Homo sapiens: one gene and its partner. The protein of the gene in region 1 interacts with the protein of each later gene in a pairwise test. Each region holds a gene or a part of one and is shown in the gene's direction. Other genes may lie near its edges.

Evidence for each region. Proteins that work in one complex are often made in the same cells at the same time.
Region 2: the proteins of CHERP (region 1) and SAXO1 interact in binary tests that used the Homo sapiens proteins (3 or more experiments, as listed by UniProt).

What each region holds. Positions count from the first base shown.
Region 1 is NC_000019.10:16,539,417-16,546,763, reverse strand, and holds the start of CHERP (calcium homeostasis endoplasmic reticulum protein), read left to right. Parts: upstream 1-4,326; 5' UTR 4,327-4,385; coding exon 4,386-4,410; intron 4,411-4,720; coding exon 4,721-4,894; intron 4,895-7,347. UniProt on the Homo sapiens protein: Involved in calcium homeostasis, growth and proliferation.
Region 2 is NC_000009.12:18,927,145-18,932,243, reverse strand, and holds the end of SAXO1 (stabilizer of axonemal microtubules 1), read left to right. Parts: intron 1-3,188; coding exon 3,189-4,192; 3' UTR 4,193-4,594; downstream 4,595-5,099. UniProt on the Homo sapiens protein: May play a role in the regulation of cilium length. Stabilizes microtubules at low temperature.

The sequences.
Region 1 (7,347 bases):
ATGACAATACAGATTCATTAACCTGTTCTGATTGAGGAGCCTATTAAGAATCCTGTAAACGCTGTGTATCTTCAACCCTCAAAAAGGCATTTATTTTGCTACCAATTTTGTTCATGGTTCTCTGAAATCTATCCATTGGAGATCCCAAGTTAAAACTCCTTGATGTAGCCGGGCACGGTGGCTCACACCTGTAATCCCAGCACTTTGGGAGGCCGAGGCAGGTGGATCACCTGAGGTCAGGAGTTTTAGACCAGCCTGGCCAACATGGTGAAACCATCTCTACTAAAAATACAAAAATTAGCTGGGGGTAGGCCGGGCGCAGTGGCTCACGCCTGTAATCCCAGCACTTTGGGAGGCCGAGGTGGGCGGATCACGAGGTCAGGAGATTGAGACCATCCTGGCTAACACGGTGAAACCCCGTCTCTACTAAAAATACAAAAAATTAGCCGGGCGCGGTGGCGGGTGCCTGTAGTCCCAGCTACTCGGGAGGCTGAGGCAGGAGAATGGTGTGAACCCGGGAGGTGGAGCTTGCAGTGAGCAGAGACTGCACCACTGGACTCCGGTCTGGGCAACAGAGTGAGACTCCTCAGAAAAAAAAAAAAATTAGCTGGGTGTGGTGTGCACCTGTAGTCCCAGCTACTCGGGAGGCTGAGGCAGAATTGCTTGAACCCCAGAGGCAGAAGTTGCAGTGAGCAGAGATCACACCACTGCACTCCAGCCTGGGTGACAGAGCAAGACTCTGTCTCAAAAAAAAAAAAAACAAAAAAAACAAAAAAAACTTCTTCATGTAGATTTTACCTGGCATGAAAAGTGCCCACACTCTGGATTACTGACTGTTCTTCAAATAGTATGGGCTGGGCACGGTGGCTCATGCCTGTAATCCCTGCACTTTAGGAAGCCAGGGCAGGCAAATCAGTTGAGGTCAGGAGTTCAAGACCAGCCTGGCCAACATGGTGAAACCCCGTTTTTACTAAAAATACAAAGATTAGCTGGGTGTGATGGCAGGCGCCTGTAATCCCATCTACTTAGGAGGCTGAGGCAGGAGAATCACTTGAGTGTGGGAGGCGGAAGGTGCAGTGAGCCGAGATTGAACCACAGCACTCTAGGCTGGGCAACAGACAGGACTCCGTCTCAAAAAAATATATAAAAAATTTAGGGCCAGGCACGGTGGCTCATGCCTGTAATCCCAGCACTTTGGGAAGCTGAGGCGGGTGGATCACCTGAGGTTGGGAGTTTGAGGCCAGTCTGACCAACAGGCAGAAACCCCATCTCTACTAAAAATAAAAAACTAGCCGGGTGTGGTGTCGCATGCCTGTAATCCCAGCTACTCGAGAGGCTGAAGCAGGAGAATTGCTTGAACCCGGGAGGCGGAGGCTGTGGTGAGCCGCGATCACGCCATTGCACTCCAGCCTGGGCAACAAGAGTGAAACTCCATCTCAAAAAAAATAAAAAATAAAAAATATTTTTTAAATAAACAGTATGATCCCACACTGTTCTCTCTGCCTGTTTAGGGTGTTTAGAGCTGGCCCCTTGTTCAGATCATAGTGCAGACCTCACCTCGAGAGCCTTTCCTGACAACCCTATCAGCCTGGGCCTCACCCTCCCTTGTATCATAGTCTCAGCATCCTCTTCTTAATAACACCTTTGAGATGATATATTTGTTTACTGATTTTGGGACTCTTCCCCGCCATAGACTGAGTCCCCTGAGAGCAGAGCTGAGATCTGAGTTGTGCATGACCGTATCTATAAACCACATCCAACTGGCCGCCTGTTTTTGTGAGCCAGGAAGGTTTTTCAAAGGTGAACATGTACCATCAATTGACGACAGGAAATACAACTGGGAGCCCCAATTAAGTGAAATGTTATCCCCCAAAAGAATTCCACTCTTATGAATAGACTTGGGTCTTAGTCCATTTTGCATCGCTATAAAAGAACACCTGAGACTGGGCAATTTTTAAAGAAGAGAAATTTATTTCTTACAGTTCTGGAGGCTGAGATATCCAAAATCAAGGGCCTTCTTGCTGGTGGGGACTCTGCAGAGTCTTGAGGTAGCACAGGGCATCACATGGCTAGCAGGCTGTGTGCAAGCTCAGGTCTCTCTTCCTTTTTTTTTTGAAACGGAGTCCTGCTCTGTTGCCCAGGCTGGAGTGCAGTGGCACGACTTTGGCTCACTGTAACCTCCACCTCAACCTTTGCCTTCTGGGTCCAAGTGATTCTCGTGCCTCAGCCTCCCAAGTAGATGGGATTACAGGCATCCGCCACCATGCCCGGCTAATTTTTGTATTTTTAGTAGAGATGGGATTTCTCCATGTTGGCCAGGCTGGTCTCGAACTCCTGACCTCAGGTGATCTGCGTGCCTTGGCCTCCCAAGGTGCTGGAATTACAGGCATGAGCCACTGAGCCTGGCCTTTCTTCCTCTTTTTATTTTATTTTATTTATTTTATTTATTTTTTTTTTTTGAGATGGAGTCTCACTCTGTCGCCCAGGCTGGAGTGCAGTGGTGCAATCTCAGCTCACTGCAAGCTCCAAACCAGTCCCACTCCCATGATAACCTATTTATCCATTAACACATGAATGGCACGACCTCATAACCCAATCACCTCTTAAAGGCTCCACCTCTTAATACTGTTTCACTGGGGATTAGGAACAAACATTCAAACTGTAGCAACTTGTATTTAAGAAACTACTCAGTTATCATATTTTGATTTTCACCAACAAAAATTTTATGAACTTTTCTTTCTGGTTATAGAAATACCTAAATAAGGCTGGGTAGGGTGGCTCACACCTGTAATCCCAGCAGTCTGGGAGGCCAAGGCAGGCAGATCATGTGAGGTCAGGAGTTCAAGACCAGCATGGCCAACCTGGTGAAACCCCATCTCTACTAAAAATGCAAAAATTAGCCGGGCGTGGTGGTGCGCACCTGTAGTCCCAGCTCCCCTGGAGGCTGAGGCAGGAGAATTGCTTGAGCACGGGAGGCAGAGGTTGCAGTGAACCGAGATCACACCACTGCACTCCAGCTTGGGCGAGAGAGAGCAAGACTGTGTCTCAAAAAAAAAAAAAAACCAAACAATTAAGATCCTCGATCTTCATGAGAAAATATGAACTAGAGGACATTTAGAAAAAAAAAAATCCTTGATCTTGCCTCCTGACCTGCAGAGTCTAAAATATTTGCTTTCTGTCCCTTTTATACAAAAAGTTTTGTTGATTCCTAGCCTACAGCAACACTTGATGTAGAGTTGTCAATCCATAAGCATCTGGTGGAAAAATGCTGTTAACAATAAAAATGAAACTAATCTAAAATACATGTGCATTTATTTGCACAGAAAAAAACAGGCTGGGTAAAGTAGCTCATGCCTATAATCCTAGCACTTTGGGAGGCCGAGGCGGGAGGATTACTTGAGCACAGGAGTTCAGGGCTAGTGAGCTATGATCATGACACTGCACTCCAGCGTGGGCCACAGAGCAAGACCTTGTCTCAAGAAAAAAGAAAAAAAAAAACGGATAAAGGAAAAAAAAGCGGCGGGGGCGGGGGGCAGGTATAGCCAACTAAGCATTAACCATCTCAAGAGGATCAGTTTATATCGGACGTCCACAGCAGAAATTTGCTGCTTCTGGCTATCTTTTCCCCACAATTAGCAAGGGTTAGCTTCATTATTTTAGAGGCAACCCAACTGCAGCTTTTAGAAAGGCGCTGTGCCCTCTAGGCCAGCAATTTGAGGGCATGGGTTGGGGGGTACCCCGCCCCAGTCTTCCTGACCAAAGAGTGGAGCGGAAGAAAGCCAGGAGGAGGATGTTTTGAACCTAAATACGTCCAGCTGCAATCCCAGTCAAGCTCGTCGCCCCCAGTTCTGCTCCACCTCCGGTCTGGCCGGGGAGAATGTGACAGTCGCCGCAGCCCGGGATCCACCCGGACGCACCTCACCTCGCAGTCTCCTCACTGTGCCCGCGAAAGGAAAGAGACCCTGGCCCAGGCACGAAGTCCCCAGGCCCCTGGTCGCCCGGAGGTAGCAACCAGCCAGCCCATCGGGCTGCGACGCCGACCAAGGGGCACGCCCCGCGCCCCCCGGTCTCGACTAACACCCACCCGCGCCGTTCCAGCCTTTCCGCGGCGCCGCGCGACGGGGACCCACTCTGCGAAAGTGTCAGGAAACTTCTGCGCGTGCGCGTCGCTAGCCCCTCCCGCGCGCCAGGCATCGCGCGGCTTCTTCCCGCCTGCCTCCCGCTCTCACTTCCGGAGTTTCCCAGCGACGGCCGTAAGTGGCGGGCGGAAGCGGCCCTAGAAGCCCGCCGTAAACGGCTCCCTCGCGCCACTTCCGGCCGGCTTCCGCAGACGGCGCTGGTGGTCGATCGTGTGGCGCCGGAGGACGTTCCCCGCGGCCGGAGCCATGGAGATGCCGCTGCCCCCCGATGGTGAGACCCAAACCGGCCGAGAGACCGTTTCTCTCTCCCCGGAACCTCCTATTGGCCGGCCCCGCCTCCCGGAGTCCCCGGGTCTGGGAGGGGGCGGGGCTCGGCCTCGCGGCTTCGCCTGCGGCCTCTCCCGTGGGTCCCCGCATTCCCGGCGAGCGTGTGGCCCCTATCGGGACCCGTACAAGGGCGGCCTCTTCGGGGCCCACCCCCTTGGGGTCCCCGGCAAGGCGGACGGGGGCTGGGGCGCCGAGTCCCCCGGCTTTGGGCGGTCCTCGCTGACGCCCCGCGTGGCCTTTTCTCCGTCCTCCAGACCAGGAGCTTCGAAATGTCATCGACAAGCTCGCCCAGTTCGTGGCTCGCAATGGGCCCGAGTTTGAGAAGATGACTATGGAGAAGCAGAAGGACAACCCCAAATTCTCGTTTCTTTTCGGAGGCGAATTCTACAGTTACTACAAGTGCAAGCTGGCGCTGGAGCAGCAGCAGCGTGAGTCCCCTCCGGCACTCAGGCCGTCCCATCGAGCGCTTCCTTTCTCGGATTCCAGTCCGGGCTCTGCCACAAACCTCTTTCTTTCGGGTCGTTTATTCTTTGAAGTGGAGCAGCTCGGTCCACACGATCCCTGTTCCGCTGTTCCCACGGCCCTGCACAGAGCGGCTGCTGGGTGCCACTGTAATGGAGAACAACGAGGTTTTCGATCCTCCCCCCTGGGCTCTGGATCAGGGATTTTGCTGTTGTTTTGCAGACTGATGACGGAGATTAGCAGGAGTAGCGTGATTGTTTTAGTGTTTTCTAGGGAGGAAGTGATAGAGGCCGGATGGGAGTCCATGGGACAGGCACTGTCCAGCCCCCTTTGCCGTCTCCCTGTGGGTCCAGCAAGGTTTTGTGCATTTCAGATGCCTGCAGCAGAAATCAAAAAGAATTATCCCTCTGAGTTTTAGTTATTGGCAAGTGTTTATCAATGTTCGTTCATTTAGGCAACAGGATTCCAGTCCTGCTCTAAAGAAGTTTAAAGTTAGGAAGCAGAGCTGGCCTTTGAATAATGGATAGTCACCAGGTGGTGCGGCTGCTCAGGGCAGGTATCACATCTGTCACGTTCAGTACCCAACCCCGTCTCTAGATTGTTTAAATGAATAACTAGGAGTTTGCCAGGTAGATGGACATTGAGAGGTGGTTGTCCGCTGTTTGATCGAACGCCAATTGTGTGTTATGTATTAAGGTACAATGACCCAAACAAGGTCTGTTTGGCTTCGGCGAGCGTGTAGTTCAGGGGACTACACGCTCGTCTTGTATTAAGGTACAAGGTCATTGTCCCTTAATACATAACACACAGTTGGTGTTCGATTAAACAGCTTGAAAGGAGGCCTGTTGCAGTGGCTCATACTGTAATCACAGCACTTTGGGAGTCCAAGGCGGGCAGATCACTTGAGGTTAGGAGTCTGAGACCAGCCTGGCCAACATAGTGAAACCCTGTTTCTACGAAAAATACAAAAATTAGCCGGGTGTGGTGGCCCGCGCCTGTAGTCCCAGCTACTTGGGAGGCTGAGGCGGGAGAATCGCTTGAACCCGGGAGGTGGAGGTTGCGGTAAGCCAAGACCACGCCATTGCACTGCAGTCTGAGTGACAGAGTAAGACTCCATCTCAAAAAAAAAAAAGAAAGAAAGAAAAAGAAAAGGCTTGAAAGGAGGCCAGGCGTAGTGGCTGACGCCTGTAATCCCAGCACTTTGGGAGGCTGAAGCGGGCAGATCACTTGAGGTTAGGAGTCTGAGAACAGCCTGGCTAACATAGTGAAACCCTATCTCTACTAAAATTACAAAACTTAGTCAGGTGTGGTGGCACACACCTGTAGTCCCAGCTACTGGAGAGGCTGAGGCAGAAGAATCGCTTGAACCTGGGAGCTGGAGGTTGCATTGAGCCGAGACCACACCATTGCGCTCCAGCCTGGGTGACAGAATGAGACTCCATCTAAAAAAAAAAAGCAGCTTGAAAGGAGGCCAGGCCCAGTGGCTTGTGCCTGTAATCCCAGCACTTTAGGAGGCTGAGTCAGGCGGATCACTTGAGGTCAGGAGTTCGAGACCAGCCTGGCCAACATGGTGAAACCCCATCTCTACTAAAAATACAAAAAAAATTAGCCAGGCATGGTGGTGGGCACCTGTAGTCCCAGCTACCCGGGAGGCTGAGGCAGGAGAATCGCTTGAACCTGGGAGGTGGAGGTTGCAGTGAGCCAAGATCGTGCCACTGCACTCTAGCCTGGGAGACAGCGAAACTCCATCTAACAACAACAACAACAAAAACTTGAAAGGCTGAGAGAGTAGAACATTGCAAAGGGGCAGTTTCTTGAACAAGAAACAGAGAGAGAGTTTATGTGTGTATTGCCAGGCACAGTGGCACACACCGTACCCCCAGCTACTCAAGAGGCTGAGGCTGGAGGGTTGCTTGAGCCCGGGAGTTCAGGGCTGTAGTGCGCTGTGTCGATTGAGTGTGTGCAGTAAGTTCAGTGTCAGTATGGTGACCCCCTGGGAGCTGGGGACCACTCGACTGTCTAAGGGGTGGTGAACTGGCCCAGGTCAGAAATGGAGCAGGTCGAAACTCCTGTGCCGATCAGTAGTGGCCTCACGCCTGTAAATAGCCACTGCACTCCAGCCTGGGTGACATAGTAGAGAATCTATTTAATAAAAGAATGTGCTTGTATGAGGGAAGAGTTTGACCTGGAGTGTTAACTGCCAGGGGAAAAGTTTGGGTTTTTTCACTCAATCCAGGGGTTTTTCTGATGCCTATTTAGGTTTGAGATGCGGGGGTGGGGTGGAGAGAGATCAGCTGCCTGAAATCGTAAGCAAAATATTGTATGTGCTTATGTGTTTCTAGAGCGATCCTTCCTTAGCCCCAGCACACCAAGTTTAAAACCGTTGCTAGGCCGGGCGCGGTGGCTCACGCCTGTAATC
Region 2 (5,099 bases), on another chromosome or scaffold:
TGCAAAAAGACGAAGTTACCGCATCCAAACTCAAAAGAGTCAGAAACCTAAATGTAATAGCTAAAACTATAAATGTTTCAAAATAAAACATGGGAGAAAAATCTATGATATCTTGGGACAGGCAAAGAATTTAGACATGGCATCAAAAGCATGATTTATTAAAGATATAAATAGGACTTTATCGCAATTCAAAACCTTTGGGCACTTAGAAAGACACCATTAAGAAATGAAAAGAGTCAGGTGTCAGGTGGGTGTTTTGTTAAAATAATAAGAAAATGAAAAGAGAAGTGATAGACTTGGAAAAAAATTTGTAAATCACATACCTGGTGTAAGATTTGTATTTAGAACATGCAAAGAATTCTATAACTCAATAAGAAGACAATCTAATTTTAAAATGGGCAAAACATCTCAATATTTTACCAATGAAAGCACATGAAGAGCGGATAAGTGCATGCAGAGATACTCAACATCATTAGTCATTAGAGAAATGTAAATGACACTGCAAGATACTACTAAATACCCATTGGAATGTCTATAATAATTTAAAAACACAGATGATAACAAATATTGACAAGGATGTGGAGAAATGAGAATGTTTATACGTTGCTGGTGGGATGTAAAATGGCACATCTACTTCTCCACTTTGAGAACATTTGGCAGTATCTTTTTTAAAAAGCTAAAGATAGATTTTTCTATACAACCTAGCAATTTCACTTTATTATCTACCCAAGAGAAATGAAAATATATGTTCACACACAGACTTCTTCACAAAGGCTCATAGCAGAATTTCTTTATAATAGCCAAGGAGTAGAAACAACTCAAAATGTCCATCAATTGGTGAATGATAAACAAAATTTGGTATCATATAATATTATTCAACAATAAAAAGGTGAACTACTGATACAGGCTACATTATGGATGAACCTCAATTACATTACACTAAGTGAAAGAAGCCAGATGCAAAACGCTACATATTGGGTGATTCTATTTATATGAAATGTCCAAAAAATGCGCAGTTATAGAGACCAAGAGCAAATTAATGGTTGCCTGGGGCTGGAGATGGGAGTAAAGACTGACTACAAATGAAGATAATTGGTATTTTTGGCATGATGCAAATACTCTATAACTTGATTTTGGTGATGGATATACAACTCCATAAAAGTCACTAAATTGTGTACTTCAGATGGTACCTTTTATTATGCAAATTAGATTTCAATAAAACTGTTACAAATTGTGCCTGCGGACTCCACTAGTGTTGGTGTGTATACCCAAGGCTCCTGGGAAGCAGCTTTTTTTTCTAACCTTTCGTACAGCAGTAAGCAAGAGAATTCCCTATAGATTCAGAGGGCTCACTAGGGCTAATTTAAATCTGGTAATTTATGGGCCTGATGGGGCAACCTAGGTCTTGGATGTTAGTCAAGTATTTTGAAAGAATGCCAGCAGTAGGCCGGGCGTGGTGGCTCACGCCTGTGATCCCAGCACTTTGGGAGGCCGAGGTGGGCGGATTACCTGAGGTCGGGAGTTCGAGACCAGCCTGACCAACACGGAGAAACACCGTCTCTACTAAAAATACAAAATTAGCCGGGTGCGGTGGCACATGCCTGTAATCCCAGCTACTAGGGAGGCTGAGGCAGGAGAATCGCTTGAACCTGGGAGGTGGAGGTTGCGGTGAGCTGAGATTGTGCCATTGCACTCCAGCCTGGGCAACAAGAGTGAAACTCCATCTCAAATAAAAAAAAAAAAGTTCCAGCAGTGCCAAGGCAGTTGAATCACATGGTTTGTCATCCCATTTTTCTCACCTAGACTTTCAGTCTTGGTGTGCTGGCCCTGATGGTCTGTGTGGCAAAGCCAGTTTCAAAGGCTTACAGTGCTGCCTGAAGACAGTATCTGGTCCTCAAGATGCATGGAGGCCATCTCTACTGCAGATTTCCTTGGGGTCCAGGCCTCCCATTATGTTGGCCATTCCAGCCCCACAGCAGAGGTTCCTCTGGAGATGGACATCTAGATTGGCCAGTTCTTCTCATTCTTCAAACATTCTGAAGTTCTTTTCCTCCTGAAAATCTTCCCTCTGATTATTTTTTTCTTTAACCTTTACTCCATCTGGAAATAAAATGCCCCTAAGTGTGATATGAGGTATCAGAAGAACATGGCTTTGGAGACAACAATACGGTTTAAATTCCAACTCACCTCACTAGCCATGTGACTTTTGGGCAAGTTTCTTAGCTCCTCTGAGCCTTGTATTTAGAAATCTGTAGAATGGAGAGAATCATACCCATCACAAAGGGTTATTGTGAAGATGAAACAAGATCATGTATGGAAAGACTTGAGCACAATTGACCGACATGTAGTTGGTATTCCCTAACTGTTAGAACCAGAGAGTAGAGTGGGTCAGATCGTGGGCTCTGGGTCTGAATTTGCATTTGTGCTTTTCCACTTCTAGCCAAGTGAGCTGGGACAAATTCCCTCATTTTCTGTATATCTGTTTCTGCATCTATAAAACTGGCATTAATAGTACCCACCTTATTAGGACAGTCTGAAGATTAAGTGAGTTAATATATACAGCACTTAGAATACTGCCTGTTATGTAATAAGTTTTATATAAGTGGCAGCCACTGTTCTCTCACCACCCAATACAATGCCCTATTCCCTTGGAGCAGCATATTTGATTTATGTGGATTACATGTGAGGATTACAGGGACACAGTGGGCTGTCACTCCACAGACGACCAGGTAGGCCTGGTTCATCTGGCTGGTGGCCCACCAGTGGTGGGTTGTGAATTTTCTATCTCACTACATCACATGCATCTTCTCACTCCTTCCATGCTGATTCAGAGAAAGTACCTTCTCCACAGAAGAAAGGAAGTGTTGTCAGAGTAAGCTAGTGGTTGAACTTTTCTGCAGGAATGGATTCCCTGGATCCTCTCACGACCATGGACCCTCTAAGATCCCTGCATGCAGTATTGTGGGGTGTGATGAGAGCTCCTGTAGATTTGTCTCTTCTGCCTGCAAGTACCATAAAGTTGACACATCAGGTGTTTGAATGAAGTGGTAGCAGGGATGTGCTCTGTTCTTTCTTTGTCTCAAAGAACACTTCATCGGAGACTGCCTTAAGACCTTGGGGCTCTGTAGAATATATGCAAGTTGGTTGACTTGATTTATTATTAATTACCTCTTCTGCTTTAATTTCAGCTGATTATTTGCCTTGGAACCAACCAAGGCGAGAGCCACTTCGTCTGGAACACAAATACCAGCCGGCATCAGTCAGGTTTGATAACAGAACCACACACCAGGACGATTACCCCATAAAAGGCCTTGTGAAGACCATAAGCTGTAAACCTCTGGCCATGCCAAAGCTCTGTAACATCCCCTTGGAGGATGTGACTAACTACAAGATGAGCTATGTGGCCCACCCCGTGGAGAAGCGCTTTGTGCATGAAGCAGAGAAGTTCAGGCCCTGTGAAATCCCCTTTGAAAGCCTTACCACTCAAAAACAATCCTACCGGGGCCTGATGGGGGAGCCTGCCAAGAGCTTGAAACCTCTAGCCAGGCCTCCTGGGCTAGACATGCCTTTCTGTAACACCACTGAGTTTCGAGATAAGTACCAAGCTTGGCCAATGCCCCGGATGTTCTCCAAAGCTCCCATCACCTACGTCCCTCCCGAAGACAGGATGGATCTTCTGACAACAGTGCAGGCCCATTACACATGCCCTAAGGGTGCCCCAGCTCAGTCCTGCCGACCTGCACTTCAGATTAAGAAGTGCGGTCGCTTTGAAGGCTCTTCCACCACCAAGGATGACTACAAGCAGTGGTCCAGCATGCGCACAGAGCCAGTCAAGCCCGTTCCCCAGCTGGACTTGCCCACCGAGCCCCTGGACTGCCTGACCACCACTCGGGCCCACTATGTGCCCCACCTGCCTATCAATACCAAAAGCTGTAAGCCTCATTGGTCTGGCCCTCGAGGAAATGTCCCTGTGGAAAGCCAGACCACCTACACCATCAGCTTTACTCCCAAGGAAATGGGCAGGTGCCTAGCTTCATATCCTGAGCCTCCTGGCTACACCTTTGAGGAAGTGGATGCTTTGGGTCACAGGATATACAAACCAGTTTCCCAGGCAGGCTCTCAGCAGAGCAGCCATCTTTCTGTAGATGATTCAGAAAACCCCAACCAGAGGGAGTTGGAAGTGTTAGCCTGATTTTGAAAAATAGTAATTTAGAAATTACACAGTACTTTTAAAAGCAGACAACTGAGAATTATTTGTTGGACAAAAAAGAATTCCCTAAAATGACAAAAAACAAAAAACAAAAAACCTTCACCACTTCCAGAGCACTTGAATAAAATGAGAATCACTTGACTCAGGGAAAATGACATTTAATCACCGGCTAATTAACTCCCCTTACCTTCTCCTTTACTGCATCCCCACCCCGTTTCAGGTCCTTTACTTTGTGCTTATGGAATCAAAGTTGGTCTGTGAGGGTTTCTCTGATCCAGATGTATTTTATTAATTTAATCATTGTATGAACTGACATAATGATTAACCCTTGCCAAGTATGAAGCGCCAAAGAATAAATTTTATTTTGGGGGGAATGAATCTGTAGGCTGGCTATGCAGAGAGTAGTCCGTATTGCTTGGGACCTTTGGGAGATTTTATACTAGCACCCCCATTGTGTATCAGTATTGGTGGAGGTGCCTTGGGCCTGGTCTGGAGTCTTGTTTTGGGTTCTCTCTGTGCAGGGCTGCTTCACAAAGCATCCTTCTACCTCTTCACTGCATGACATACCAGCAAGAATAGTGCTGTTCGATGGGGTGTGGATCTCTTTAGTCACAGGTGATGGAGGGAAAGAAAGAGGGAGGCAGTGATGCATGAACCTACCAGACCTCTCCCCAACCCCAAGCTGGTACAGGCTATGATTCCAGGGAGAGGAGGGAGAAAAAGCACCCTTGGCAACCAGGCAGTCGACGCCTGGTCCTTGAGCTGTGAGCAAAAGCTGTGGGCTCTTCTAAATGCTCAGAGCCTGGAAGAAATTTCCCCAGGCTGGCCTGGTTTCTGGAGAGCCTGGATGTGCTTGTCCTAAAATGACAGCTGTGACCAGACCTGTGAC